Homo sapiens: one gene and its partner. The main gene of each other region encodes a partner of the protein of the gene in region 2 in a complex. Links are inferred from orthologs where the notes say so. Each region holds a gene or a part of one and is shown on either strand. Other genes may lie near its edges. The genes, in order: CASK and DLG1.

Region 1 (7,269 bases), on a different chromosome or scaffold from region 2:
AAAATAATAATAATGACAATGGCAATTAAAATAACAACCTTTAGACATTTCACATAGATCATGCTATTCAATCCTCACAACAACCTTACAAAGTATATACCATTAACCACATTTTACAGATAAAGAAACTGAGGGTCAGAGAGGCTAACTAACTTGCCCAGGACCTCATAGCTAGAAATGAATACATAAATGAACAATGAATAAAAGTTAGCACCACTAACAATTTTACACACATGGTAGAAAAGAATGTTCATTTCACCATATTATTTATGTAATAGAGCCTGTGTTTAGCACTGAGAATGTGCACATTTGGAAATTGTTGAAACTTACGTACATAACTGCCAAAAGTAATTTGAGTATCTCAGAGACATTCTAGAAATAAAAAATACTTATGCTGCACTTTACAATTCACTAATCCACACAAATGGTTTGTGAAGCAGCTATCATTCCTTTTATAAATAAGGAGAAAATAGCCACACTGTGCCCAAAGGTTACCAGATCAGAAGGGGGCTGCCTAACAAGCCACAGAGCAACCGCATTCCATACCTTTAGGGGAAATCACATACCAAGGGTAAGAAAGAAGGCCAAGAATTGATGATGTTTTCTAAAAACACAAATTAGAATCTATGAAATAGCAGTAGTATAATGGTAATCTGCACACCATGGAAGGACTAGAGAGAGAGACCTCTGTAACTGAATGAATATCATCATCCTTTAATTTAAGAAAACATTAAAATCTGCATGTAGTTGAATGGTAATACAGTGTACTTCTATCCTAGATTTAAATATACCAAAATACTCTAACTTAAGTGTTAAAAGCCTGAAATACAGACTGAACATAGTATATTTTGGATATTATTAAACTACATGAGAGACAGAACAATCCACATTCTTACCTGCAAATGATTCAAATACTCAAAACAATGATTACAAAGCAAAAAGGAAAGAAAGTATATTAAAAGAAATCACAAAGATTGGGAGAAAAAACAATGTACAACAGCCCAGTAATAAATAGAATACAAGAAGCTGAAGTGAAATAGCACGCACTTAGATACCAAAAAACTGGCTTATGTACAACGAAGCAATCGTTTCTTATTGTGAATGGATGTGGACAACCAAAAATAGCCAATGAACAAATTTAGTTAGGAGGTGATGGGAGAAGAAATGTGAAAGAGGAGGACAGTACTACATTCATCCAACGTGGACAAAAATCCTTGAGGCTAGAAAGAATTCAGTTTCCTATAGTAGAAAGATATAAGACAATAACAGTGGTTTGACACATACCAAGAACTTAAAGTAAATGTAAAGTATCTAAAACTTACTTTGTCACTTCATGAAAGGCTTCCATTTAATTGACAGTCATGCACAAGCTCGGGAATGAAAAGGACATAATCTTAGGAAAACCAAATGATTTTACCTAAAAGCCAGTCATCAGAAATCTGCAAAACACAATTAGAGTGAAAAAGAAATCTACTTTGTTTTTACCCTAAATATGTTGGTTCTGAGATAGATTTACAGAGAGATAGTATAAAATTACTAGTATCCACAGAAAAGAAGCCAGACCTAGCTTTTCAGACACATCATGAATTGACTATTAAACATAATATTCATTTTGATAAGTGCTTTAAATTGTTTCTCTGTTATAGCCACATGTGTTCTTAGTCCTCAGAGTATATTGGCATTTTACATTATTGATCCTCCCCCCTCTTTTAAACTTCTGTGCAGCCCATTATCCTGATTCTTCTAACTCTATGAGTTATACTCCAAACCACGAGCCCTAGAGCAGTCAACCCCCAAGAACTTGTTCACTCAGTTTTACTTCCACACAGATGACTCCCAAATCTTCACTGCCATTCCATACCTCTCACCCAAATTCCAGCTCAGCATTTCAAGCAATGTAAAATTACAATTGGCTTGCACTCAATCCAAAGCCAAAGTAACAATCCATATGACAGAATACTGGGCAGCAGCTAAAGAGGAGATAGAGACAGACAGATACATTGATGGATATGACAAGATCATCAAGTATATACTATTATTCATGAAAAATCAATATTTCAGCATAGTATACAAATATCTCACTTTTAAACAAAAAGCTTCCAGAAAGATGGAGAAGAAACTGAACAATGGTTACCTCTAGAGAATGGGGATATGGATGGTAGGAGAATTGAGACAGACTCACTACTTATCTTTGTATCACCTATATTTTAAATTGTATGGCTGGGCACAGTGGCTCACGCCTGTAATCCCAGCACTTTGGGAGACCAAGGCAGGTGGATCACCTGACGTCAGGAGTTCGAGACCAGCCTGGTGAAACCCCGTCTCTACTAAAAATAAAAAACTAGGCTGGACGCGGTGGCTCACGCCTGTAATCCCAGCACTTTGGGAGGCCAAGGCGGGTGGATCACGAGGTCAGGAGATCAAGACCATCCTGGCTTACATGGTGAAACCCCATCTCTACTAGAAATACAAAAAAAAAAAAAAAAATTAGCCGGGCGTCTGTAGTCCCAGCTACTCGGGAGGCTGAGGCAGGAGAATGGCGTGAACCTGGGAGGCGGAGCTTGCAGTAAGCCGAGATCGCGCCATTGCACTCCAGCCTGGGCGACAGAGTGAGACTCCGTCTCAAAACACACACACACACACACACACACACGCACACACAAATTAGCCAGGCGCGGTGGTGCATGCTTGTAATCCCAGCTTGTTGGGAGGCTGAGGCAAGAGAATCACTTGAACCCAGGAGGCGGAGGTTGTAGTGAGCCAAGATCGTGCCACTGCACTCCAGCCTGGGAGACAGAGCGAGACTCCATCTCAAAAAAAGAAAATAAAATTTACTACGTGCATCATTACTTTTATAATTTACTGTATAAAAACTAATTAATAAAGAAAAGTAACACAAAATTATTAAATCTCAATGTTGGAAATAAACATTAACTTCAAAACAAACTAGCTTCGGAAATGAAATTTTCCCAGGGTAGAAGTCAGAGACTCTATACTGACTTGGGCTCTACAACCAATACCATAGTGGCTCCAGGACAGAAAGGAAGGAGAGCAAGTTCTGTAGCATCTTAAATCCCACAGCATAAATCCAGAGCCATATTTGGTGCTTCTAGAATCTTCACTGTCAGTTGCAACTAAAAAATAAAACCAAAAAATGTGAGAACAGCACATCCCATCAGCTTGTTGGCTGGGGTCCGGTACCTGCTCTGCAATAGTTAACTCAGTCTCTTGATTATTTAAGGTGTACAGTGCTGGCAAACAGCTAGAAGCTCACAGACTCAGCGGCTGCAGCTCACTACACGGTTTTCAGAATCAGAGAGAACAATCTCCGTATTTTTATCACAGGATAAAGGAATAACTATCCTTTGGAAACCACTCCACCCCACTTCCAACAAACATCTACCTCTGAAACCTTATTACTTCTGGTTTGGCAAGTTAGGGGTAATTAATCAACTATCCTGTCTGTTGGGGCAAGGGAAATGGAAGAAAAAATTTGGAGAGTAAAAGAAGTAGAGAAAGTTCCAAAACAAATTATATTTTGGACAGATGGCCAAGAGTCTATATTTCCATTGCTAGATTTACCAGTTAGTTTGGTAACAAATGCTGATGTTTCATTAAAGAGAAAGACAAAAATAAAAAAGAAACAGATGAAAGAATGAATAGTATATGGAACCTCTACTGAAGAAATAAGAAATTTAACCAGAAAGTCAAACAACTAAAATTTGCAGTATAGAAACTCTGAAAATGAAGACGTGTCTTTAAGAAAATCCAACACAGTATTTTCACAACTTGAATTAGCAGCAGAATGCAGCATGAAATGAACAGACTTTAAAACCATGGAACCGCGTTGGAATCTGTGTGATCTTAGGCGAATTACTGATCACCCCCTCTGAATCTCAGTGTTCTCTGTAAAATGGGTATGATTAAATAATACATCCAAAATGCCTAACATTAGAGGGATAAATGTCAATCCCTTTATAAAGTAAGCTTTAAGTTATAGAAGTTTTTTAAACAACCTTATGTCAAAGTTCCTTTAAATGCAGTGCTCCTACCACATTTAAAATGTGAAAACGTTTAAGAAAATGTAATAATTCAAGAATAATCTCAAGAAGCAAGGTATATCTGCTCCTTCAATTTATTGAGTAGAACTACAGCTGGAGACAGAATTTTCAGTTTAAAGGAAATATCCAGGTACACAATTTAGGGACACTTGAGACGTAGTTCATCAGGTGAAACTGTTGCAGATACAAGGAAAAAATGGAGAGAGCTGAACTGCGTATGTCAAGTACATAGAAGCGTGTTACGGACATAAAAATTAAGGGAGTCCACAGGAAGTATTTATGAAGACAACTTCAAACAACACACCCTAAAGCAATCTGTAAAAAGCAGACAGGAAGAGACTAGAGAAGGTTGTATACATGCAGAAAAGCAACGGAGTAGCTCTGTTCTCCCTCCAAATGATCCTAGGATCATCAGGAATCAATATTGCTTCCCCACTCCCATTGAGGCCTGCTATCTGTAGCATCCACACCCTGAGTTCAAAAGGATTTTCCTCTGTAGAAGTACAGCTTAACTCCCATGGCTTGCATTCTTTCTGGGCCACCAACAATTTAGCTGCTGATCACTTCTTTTACCTTGTTACTTGGCTGTCACTGTGATCATGCACTGCTTTCACGATCACTGGTATTTCTGGAATATCTACTCATTTCTGGAAAATTCTCGGTTCCTTCAGGCAAACACTTGATCTTTTCCTAACATTAAAAACTAGTTTACCTACAAAGTCTAGTTAAAATTTCCGGGAAACATTTTTTCAACACAATGCGAAATTCTCCCTATGGTACTAGAAACCCAAATCACTGCATGAATCAATACATGTGAAAGTCATAGTAATTAGTACAAATTAGTAAAGCTGAATTTTTCTGTATGCTGAATTATATACTTTACGTATTATTAATCCAGTATTTACATAAAGGCTGCATTAACTCAATTCTCCAGCTAACAGCATTACTGGAATCACAAGTATGTAATTTAAAGCATACAAGCAACTTAACCATACTCTTTTAATAGAGTGTATGTACAAACACAATCCATACTAAACTGATAAATTTCTTCATATTAAATCAAGCCATTATAGTGGAAAACCATCATCAACTGTTATTGAAGCAATCCTTGTTCTGTGTTGTTCCAAACGTCAGACAATCGCCATGTTAGCATTAGATGAGTGTCATAAATCAATGTGGATCTTAAAAGGCCCAAGAAATCAAAGCCAAACACAAGCTAAAACTAAATTTTTACACAATAAGGCTGAGAAACACAAGTGCATAGAAGATAAAATCCATGTTTTAGCCATTTAGCTTCAATACCTTCCAAAAAGAATTTATTCTACTTTGTAAGAATTGTAAGCCTCTGAAAAGCCAGTCCCAAAATATTACATACATAATCTAAGTTTTAAGCCAATGATTCCTCATTATAGCTGCATATTAGAATCACACAGAGAGCTTTAAAAAAATGTCAGTGACCAGGACCCAGTCCCAGAAACTCGGACTTCACTGCTTTGACACAGGGCTCTGGCGTTGATCTTTTTTAAAAGCTCCCCGGATGATTCTAATATGCAGCCAGGTGGAGAACCACTACTTTAAACTAATGCAGGCTCTTCGGACAATAATTGCTCTGAGGTTGACAAACATGCTTTTTTGCCTTTTAATGAGATTTTATTAAAACTACTCAATTCATTCCACAGCTAATGAAAGGCAGTTACATTGCACGCACTGTGTTAATGGAGAAAGATGTGTAAGAAACATTCCCTGCCCTCAGGAAGCTCCTTATTAGTGAACTAGAGAGATCCATAAATAAGTAACTGTAATTAAATAAAAGTGCTCTCGAGGAGTAAGCAAATACAGCATGCCTCACAAAGTTGCACGTCATCCTTAAGCAAGGGTCATGCTGCATCATTCCAATTTTAGTGTATGTCCTACCAGAGCAGGAAAGTCTGAAGCTACAGGCTACTAAACAGGGCAAGTATTCACCTAACACAAGGTAAAAATGGTATGTATTTTGTTATTCCCTTTCATACACACTGCTGTACCAAGAAAGTAGGCATTTTTCTATGTTTTAATTTCGATGAATTGTCTTAAATTTCCTTCATGTAGTATTACCGGTTGTACACTTACTTATAATTGTAAAAGATACAGTAAATGATCATGACATAAAAATTAGTCATTAACCTCATTTGCATAACGCCCTTCCTTTCCAGTAATCGCTACATTTGCTAAGACAAGAAGTTTTGGGACTATGATAAGGTCTTATTATTGGAGATTTGTTTCAGTCATTTAAAAGATAGTTACATAGAAAATGTTATAGAACCAACAGTCACTCAAAGGAGTTTCTGCAAGATTTTCAAAAATGAGAAACACAGGGAAAAGAGTTTTAATTTTTAAAAAGGGAAACGGCATCCTTCCAATATTTGTAACAAATTGGGCACATGTTCCCTCAAAGACAGCTTTAACAAGGGTAAAGGCTGCAACCACTGGAAAGAAAACATATTCCAAATAATGATCTTATATTTCAAAACCTCATTAACTCTGTAAGTTATCTTTCTCAACCAAGGGGGAAAAAAACACACTGAAGGGTCTAAATTAAACGAGAACTTTCATTTATGCCATCAAGTAAGGCCAAGTACACAGTGGGTGAGTGAGTAGGTGGTTGCGTAGGTAGAGGAGTGAGTGGGTAGTCAATTAGTCTTGAAAAGTGAAATCTATTTTAAAGTACCTTAGTAAAAATTAAAACCTATTAAGATCTAGTGGTGAAAAACAACTTGTGATACTAATTTGGTAAAAAAGAAAATCAAAATTCCATAGAACTTGGATAGAAATCAATAAAAAGGTTTTCAGTACATGTGAATATCTTCAAGGGCTTTCTGTTCAAATTCAGAGGTGAACAAATTATAAGTTAAAAATGTATGCTGTCAAGGTCCCTGCAAGAAAATCTCAAGCTAATTTCAATTTCCAGATCAATATATACTAAGACAATTTACTAGAGAAACCTTCAACCTTTACTCAGATTGAGGAACACTATTATTACATTCTTTAACAATAAGGCTAGCTTGAATTCATTATTTCACATAATGGCATTTTATAATTGGCACTGACCAAGTCAGATTTTGTAGGATATGAATGAGATTTCACAGTTCATAGTAGTTAAGGTAGCCATAGAGTACCTATCACCTCAAAATTAGCTTGCTGCCCCTCTTTATGCAGCTCTGAAACAGTC
Region 2 (8,198 bases):
AAGAGACAAACTTTCTAGTTCGGTGGTTTGCAAACTTTTTGAGGTACCTGGACAAAAGAGCCAGACAAGTCACCTTGTTTTATACATAGGAGATTATACACAAAATATGAGATGATGCTTTTAAAAATGATTTATCTACTTAAAAAAGGCTTTAAACCCATTCTGTCATTTCAACAGCTACATTCTACAGCTAATATGGTGGCATAGAAAAGATTAAATGACTTGGGATATATCATTCAATTAGTGGCAAAAGAACTCAGGACTCTTATTTTTCCAGTTCTTTCAAACAATGCACCACTTCAAATTAAGTTACAATTAAGAATAAAACTTTCCATTTTCTTGCCTGTAAAATACGGTTACTAGACAAGATCATCTCTAAGATTATTTTCCAGGTCTAAAATTCTGACTCCATGAATGCCAAGCTCAAACAGAAATCTACATTAAGGGAATGAATGTTCTTCAACACAGCAGAACCCTTCACACGCTTTCAATGACTTCAGAGACATGCCAGTCAAATACAGAAACAAGCTCACAGTAACTCAGTCATACCTTTTAGGTCCTTAAACATCTGTGCAACATCTTTTAATAGTTAATGCTATTAAGATGTGAAACAATGTTCTCAAAAGCCACTGAAATAATCCTGAAAGTTTTTTGGTTACTAGTTATTTTAAGAAAGGACACTGGCCTATGAAAAACACACAACTCACTGAAGATGTTCAAGTTACCGAATGCCTCAGAGAATTAAGTACATCATTTTCTTAAGTTTAAAATAAATGAATTGAGAGGAGCATAAAGCCTAGCTGGCATAATAGTTACGAAGTTTTAATTCCCACCTATTAAAGCCTGAAAGAGGTTGCTCTGAAATATGTTAATAACCCGTTCTATGGAACTTCTGAGCTGTCTGTCTTCAGTTTGGCTTAGTTTTGAACGATATTCCTCCAAAAGGTGCAATGCTCTCTGGGTATCTGAGAAGAAAAAGCAGAGCCTGATTAAAACTCTCTATTTACAAAAAAAGTATCACATACTAGTGCAAATAATTCTGCATGACATCTAAATAGTTCCGCAAATCCTTCAGGTCAATTGATGTCACTATGTTCATGTACACATATTCCTTAGAATGACCAAAAAATAAAAAAAAAAATTAAAGAAATACAAGAAAAATTTAAACATATATCACATTAGAAAACGGAGGAGAGTGAGCAGTTTGGAATAAATGTGTACTGGTAGTTTGCCAAAGTAAAAGATCAAAGTATTAGCAACAGTTTCAGATTACCTGATAATGCAAAAGCAGATTATCTACAATTTGTCATCATAATCCAAATTTTTAACATTTCAAAATACAAATTCTTAGTATCCCACAGTTGCTTACAGAATAGTGCTTAGTAAGAATGATAGAGTGAAATACTAAAACACCAATTCAGGGTTATTAAGGACATCTGTTGGGGGGGGGCTAACTGCCTCTCTTAATCACTAGAGAAATGTTAAGAAAGTTTAACAAACATTTTCGTGTTTCCATCTTCTGAAATGATATGAGGCTTAGATTCCCTAAGCAATAAAGCTAGGACCGTGCTGTCTCATCAAAGTTACACAAACGATTCTAAAACGGCAATCAAAAAACTGACACACGGAAAAGCAAGTGACATCGACAACAGAGTTACGGAATAAACTCTCACCTTGCTTCCGGACCGGCATTTTTCTCCAGAATCAGGAAGAGGGCACACACCTTTAAAACACACAACGGAAAGGAAAAAGGATAGAATCATGTTAAACTAGCATTTTCCCCTATCGAAATAGAAAACCCTCGCAGCCTATTTGAAAACCCCACGTTCCAAAGTTTTACCAAGTCAAAGAAAGAGTCTCAAAACGCAGCAGTTGTCTGTCAACGTGGAAAGCTTTTCCTTGGAGTGGGTACCCCTCCAAATTAAGAACAGACAGAAGTCGGCTTCCAAACTCTCCTCGAAAGCGTCCCCTCCCCAAAGAGCCTAGACCTGAGGCCGCCTCTTCCCCCGCACAAGTATCCACACTCCCCACCTGCTACTGGGTACGGGCGGGTGAAGCGCTCCGACCCTTGGCCCCTGAGCCAGCAGCGGCCGCAGAGCGCTGAGAGGGGACCAGCGGGACTGGCCGCCCGCCCTGCTCGGGCCCCCTCCTCTCGCTTGCCTTTCTCCTTGCTCGCTGCCTCCGGGCTGCTCCAGCGGGGGCCGGACAGGGCAGCGGCCGCTCTCCGCGACGCCCTCGCGCCCCGCATGCACACCTCCGCGGGCCCCCACACCTGCGGCGCCGCCACAAAGTTCCGGTGAGCGGCGTGCGCTCGGAACTGGGGTGCGCCCCGGCCAGACTCGGAGCAGCTCCCCAGCCCGGCCCCGCTCCACGTACCCCCGCCCCGCCCGGGGCCCGCGGAGCCGAGCGGAGGGGGCGAAGGGACGGGGGAGGAGCTCCCCTGGGCCGCCGCACCCCCGCGGCCTCGTCCTCCTTCTCGGCCGCGCCGCCTCCTCGCTCGCCGCGGCCCCCCGGCCCGCTCGCCCAGTTGCTGCCGCACGCCCCACCCCCGGAACCTCGCCTCCTTCCGCGCCCCCAACCGCTCTCCCCCGAAACTTTCCGCCAAGATGGCGGCCCCCGAGCTGGCCTGCCGCGCTCCCACGTGACCGCTTTCCCGGCGCTCTCAGCCAATGGGAAGTGAGGAGGCGGCTCGCGCCGAGCCCCGGGCTCCCCGCGCTGCTACCTTCGGGTTGGAAGGGGGAGGCGGGTCGGGGGAGGGCAGGGGAACGGAAGGGGTACCCGGGGAGCATCCTAAGGGAACCTCTTCGCTTAAAAGGGCGGCCGCTGAAGTGGCTCTGAGAACAAAGGAGTTAACACTCGGACTCCACAGGTGGCCCGGGGTGGCCCTGGAGGAGCCCGCCTTTACCTTGCCCTAGCCCACCGGCGCGTCCCGCAGTTCCGAACTAAACGCGCCAGGCCGGGAAGGCTCGGGCTGTCTGAAGAGAGGCGTGACCTCGCCTACACCAGATCCAAGGCGCACATACCGAGACACCCCTCAACCTCACTCAGCAGTGCCGTTTCCAACTCCGCGGCAGAGACAGCGCCTGGCGACCCCGGGGGTAGATCCCCACCGGGGAAAAGCCGCCTTAAGGAGGAGCCAACTGCACCTCCCAGGGGGCGGGGAGGGCGGGGCCTGGGAGAGGGAGAGGGAGGAGTTCGGGGAGGGGTGCCAACTCTGCATTGCCTTCCACTCCAGGCTGATTGTTAAGTTACTCTTCGTCCCTTAGTAATAGGCTTGGGGGGAGGGGTTTCATTACAGAAGGACATATGAAATAGAGACACTGGTTAACTTGGCAAGAGTTTGAGGGTTATAGTACAAGATTTTTAAGCCTAACTGATTAATTCCGAGTATGGTATACTTAAGGGTGGGCAGAGAAGGTTTGTTCATTCATTCGCTCATTCATTCATTCATTCATTTCCCTCAAGCCTGCGTCCCCGCCCGGTCAGCATCGCAGGTGTTACCCAAACTCTGACGGTCCCTTTAAGAACTCACCCGGAGTCGCGCCCTCCGAAGCTGAGCCGCCCTCGGCCAGCGCTGCAGGTTTGTTTCGTGCGCACCTCCGGGCGGAATTACCGGCCGGCTGGGACCCCGCTCCCGGTCTGAGCCACCCAGGTTATAGAAGGGGAATCTCGGGAAGCTTTCCAAGTCACTGCCCACGTCTTCGAACTTCCTCGGGGTGACGAGGACCTCCCTATTAGGAGGTCCAGAGAGAATTTGCCCAAAGTTACCCCGAGTGAGTGACAGAACTGGAAACCCGGAGATCCTGTCTTTCAAAACCGGAAGGCTCTTCCCAGTAAACCTGACGGCCTCTGACTGAGGCCGTATCCATTGGCTACCAAAGGGAAGGCCGAGGAACCTCGTATTGTAACCTTAACAGCTACTCAGAGGTATACTGACCACTGGTTTTACTTTTGGATTGCACCTTAGAATCCTAACTTACTGTAAGGACCCACCGACTTTAGAACCTATCTAGGACAAGGAACCGAGGTCCGGAAAAAGGGAAGCAACTTGTCCAAGGACATAGACGCTAATCAGTAACAGAGCAGCCGAGAACTCAGGTCTCCTAGCTCTAGTCCAGGGCTCTTTCTCTTGTGATTTTGGACAACTTGACAGAGAGGTATGTTGGTATGTTGGCAGCAGACCTCTGTGCTTTCCCGGATCAAGCATCCTGGGATCTTGAACAACAGTTAAAGCAACATTGCATAGAGAAAATGGGATAGAAGGGTCAAACGGTGCTGAAGGCAGAGGTGTCCTAACAGCCGGGAACTTAACAGAGGGACGGAATTTATTTAGTAGTGAAAGTGGCTCATGACAGGCATCATACTCTCAAGACTTCGCTGATGGACTGTGAATGGGATGGTTGCAGTAAGAAACCATTCTAACAATGGAATCTCTTCAGAATTCAGAAGAAACAGGGAGGGAAATTTGCCCTCTCCCTTGATAACATTTATTGTTCATATATGTTCACTTGCTAGGAAACGGGGATAGAAATAAATAAGATCCGAGTCCTGCTCTCAAGGATACACAGCCTTGTAGCAAGTACACAAAGGCCAATGCACCTTTTCCCAGGGGACACTGAGGAGTCAAAAACAAAATTTGTGTGAGTTCTCAATGTCATCCTAGCCTTCCCCTAAAAGCAAAAAGGAGGAAGGGGAGGAAAGAGGACGTGTCCTTTTTTCTTGTCATTCTGTGTGACAGCCCTATTTGGTTGTCAGCGGTGTACAAAAGCAGCAGTGAACCCAGCACTTGTTCTACCCTTAGCCTAAGGTGCCGGCAGCAAGTGCCTAGCAAATGAACATATATGAACAATGAATAAAGGCTCTTTACTCTTCATTCCTCCTTTCTACCCATCTTTATTAGTTACTTATTGCTGGATAAAAAAAAAGTTCCTCAAAGCTTAAGGGTTTAAAACTTATTAGCTTAGTAAGTTAAACAGCGATAAATATTATCTCAGTTTCTGTGTGTCAGGAATTCAGGAGCGGCATAGTTGGGTGGTTTTGGCTCAGGGCATTATGATGTTGCAGTCAAGAAGCCTGCCAGGGCTGCAGTCATCTGAAGGCTTCAGGGGGACTACGGGAGGCTCTTTCAGCATGGATCATTCACATAGCTAGTAAGTTGATGCTGGCTATTGGGCGGAGGCTTCAATTTCTCACCATGAAGACCTTTCTATAGGGCTGCTTGAGTGTCTTCATGACGTAGCGGCTGACGTCCAACAGAGCAAGTGATTCAAGATGGCGAGACAGAAGAAGCCACAATGCCTTTCATCACTTAGTCTCAAAAGTGACACTCTGTCATAGTCTGTTTGGGCTGCTATAACAAAATACCTTAGACTGGGTGATTTATAAACAACAGGAATGTATTACAGCTCTAGAGACTAAGTAGTCCAAGATCAAAACACCATCAGATGTGATCTAACAGTCATGAGAATAAAAATTAAAAAAAAAAAAATGGCCAGGCGCGGTGGCTCATGCCTGTAATATCCAGCACTTTGGGAGGCCAAGGCAGGTGGATCACGAGGTCAGGAGTTCAAGACCAGCCTGGCCAAGATTGTGAAACCCCGTCTCTACTAAAAATATAAAAATTAGCCAGGCATGGTAGCAGGCACCTGTAATCAACTATTCAGGAGGCTGAGACAGAGAATTGCTTGAATCCGGGAGGCGGAGGTTGCAGTGAGCCGAGATCGCGCCACTGCACTCCAGCCTGGGCGACAGAGCAAGACTCTGTCTTAAAAAAAAAAAAAAAAAAAAAAAAAAAAAAAAAAAAAAAAACACCAAGAGATTCAGTGTCTGGTAATAGCCCCATTCCTCATGAATGGAGCCTTCTTGCTACATCTTCCCATGGTGCAAGGGACTAACAAGCTCTATCTGGCATCTTTTATAAAGGCTCTAATCCCATTTAGAAGAGCTCCACTTTCAAGACCTAATCACCTCCCAAAAGCCTCATCTCTTAATATGATCACTTTGAAGGTGAAGATTTCAACGTATTAATTTAAGAAGGACACAAACATTCAGACCATAGCATACTCCATAATATCCGATCAGTTACTTAGATCAGCCTCAAGGATATGAATACCAGAAAGTAAGACTCACTGGAGGCCATCTTCTTGGAGCTGGCTACCACATCATCACAACATACAAAGCAATGACATCTGGATTTTTCTTTTCTTTTTTTTTTTTTTTAGACCGAGTCTTGCTCTGTTGCCAGGCTGGAGTGCAGTGGTACGATCTCGGCTCACTGCAACCTCTGCCTCCCGGGTTCAAGCTATTCTCCTGCCTCAGCCTCCTGGGTTGTTGGGACTACAGGCATGTGCCACCACGCCCAGCTAATTTTTTGTATTTTAGTAGTGACGGGGTTTCACCATGTTGGCCAGGATGGTCTCGATCTCCTGACCTCGTGATCCACCCGCCTCAGCCTCCCAAAGTGCTGGGATTACAGGTGTGAGCCACTGCACCCAGCCCTGACATCTGGATTTTTCTAAGCAACTTTTATTTCCTCAAAGTTTTCCTTACTTTGTGCAGTGAGCAGCTGCCATTGAATAGGACACAATATTGGATCTAATTTTCCAACTTCCTCATTAAATATATATATATATACACACACACTATATCTATCTATCTATCTATCATCTATCTATCTATCTATCTATCTATCTATCTATCTATCTATCTATATCTGTCCTATCTGTCTGTCTATCGATAGTTAGATAGACGAATAGAAGAAGTTACTTCAACAAAATACTAGCAGGTAAAGCTGTTCACTTTCCAGCTCCAAGTTAACTTGCCTTTTGAAGAGCTTAAAAGGCTTCGGAGTCAAAGACCATGGGGAAAGGCTCAGATTTCCCATTCTTTTATTGAAATGTCAGAGAGTCAATGTCAAAGATACTGTCTCTAAGTTCCAACCCTTCCCTTCCCAACCATCCTGCCCAAGCCACCTTTGCAGCTTCACATCTCTGTCTTTGTCTTCTCCTCCATCTAGGCCCCAGCTTATAAATCTATGAAGGTGTCCAGGTCCTGCCAGACTCCGCTGCATCTTTTGCTTTCACTCCAGCAGGGTAGCAGCATGCTGCCTGTGCCAAGGCAATCACTAAAAGGAAAGGATTTAATGCTGTCAAAAAAGCTTATGCCAGCTTAGGCTGCAGGAAGAGGAACAGTGTCAAGTATGTTGAAAGTGGACATATTGGTCAGACCTCCATGAGAGCCTAGGGGGCATTGCTTAGCAGCACGCTTTTAAAGGAATCTGAACAAACCAGCATGTGGAAAGAAGAGAGTAACCACAGCAATCAGGAAACAACTGTACAATCTAGGGCCATTTCATTGGAAAAACAGAAGTCTCCAGGGAGCTGCAGTCATCAAACAGGCTTATTCTGTGTACCCAGTGGGCAAGTACAGTCAATGGATGAAAATTCAACCAATGGACAAACACAGGAAGTTTTTCCTTAACATGAGTTGTCAGAAACTGTCCAAAATTCCAAAGAGCTGCCTCAAGGTAGTGGAAATTTTTTTTTTTTTTTAATCAGGAAGGTGCTGAATGAAGCCAGCAAGGATTCTGTGTCAGAGGGTGGTAGATACCCAGGACATAAGGTTGAACCACGTGACCTCTGAGACCACAGTTCTAAGCTGTTGAAACCTCAGTCCCTGCTGAATACTGAAATGGTATTAGCACCCTTTAGTCTACATCAAGAATTCGTTCTACCCAGTTTTGGTGGTACCAAGACTGATCTCTTTCTCATAGATAATTCTTAACAGAATAAAAGCTACAGGTTGAAACCAATTCCCTTTAAAATGTGGACAGTTGACCATCTCCATGATAGGTAGTTAGGCACTGAATTAATGCTTTTTAATGGAAGAGCCACCCTAAGATTCCTGGAGTGTGGTATAATGGAGTACTAAATCAGCATAGGACTAATAACTGCCTCCCGTGTAAACTGGTCTATCCGGAGAGTGGTATAGCCTCTCATACAGTGTTCAAAGGCAGATTTAACTCACTGCAGGTCCACAGCAACCGATAAGATAAACTCGTTGGTTATGGTCTCCCACTTTGCAAAGGAGAGCACAGAGGAAGAGGAAACTGAGATAACTTGGTTTAGGACCCCACAGCTGGCTGGAGCTGGGCTGAACATTAGTTCATTGTTTCTTCGATTAATCTATGCTGCTTTTTC

The links.
Region 1: the proteins of DLG1 (region 2) and CASK are in contact, whole or in part, in an NMR structure (PDB 1RSO), measured with the Rattus norvegicus proteins. The link is inferred for Homo sapiens from one-to-one orthologs. Residues at the interface, in NP_036920.2 of Rattus norvegicus: Arg4, Asp7, Thr8, Arg10, Ala11, Leu12, Leu14, Leu15, Tyr18, Lys21, Leu22, Glu26, Asp27, Leu30, Ser33, Ile34, Arg36, Val37, Ser39, Ile40, Phe41, Ser43, Leu45, Phe46, Leu49, Ile50, Gln53, Glu57, Val58, Leu60; in XP_038955489.1 of Rattus norvegicus: Gly339, Ala342, Ala343, Arg345, Ala346, Val347, Gln349, Val350, Ser353, Leu354, Glu356, Ile357, Leu360, Thr361, Asp367, Leu368, Phe370, Leu371, Ser373, Val374, Phe375, Asp377, His379, Leu380, Thr382, Leu383, Leu384, Asp385, Leu386, Tyr387.

The regions. Positions count from the first base shown.
Region 1 is NC_000023.11:41,913,364-41,920,632, forward strand, and holds part of CASK (peripheral plasma membrane protein CASK), read right to left. Parts: intron 1-7,269. UniProt on the Homo sapiens protein: Multidomain scaffolding Mg(2+)-independent protein kinase that catalyzes the phosphotransfer from ATP to proteins such as NRXN1, and plays a role in synaptic transmembrane protein anchoring and ion channel trafficking.
Region 2 is NC_000003.12:197,295,513-197,303,710, forward strand, and holds the start of DLG1 (disks large homolog 1), read right to left. Parts: upstream 3,101-8,198; 5' UTR 3,024-3,100; exon of another isoform or gene 2,735-3,023; intron 2,624-2,734; exon of another isoform or gene 2,032-2,623; intron 1,970-2,031; exon of another isoform or gene 1,841-1,969; intron 1,724-1,840; 5' UTR 1,693-1,723; coding exon 1,674-1,692; intron 966-1,673; coding exon 834-965; intron 1-833. UniProt on the Homo sapiens protein: Essential multidomain scaffolding protein required for normal development. Recruits channels, receptors and signaling molecules to discrete plasma membrane domains in polarized cells.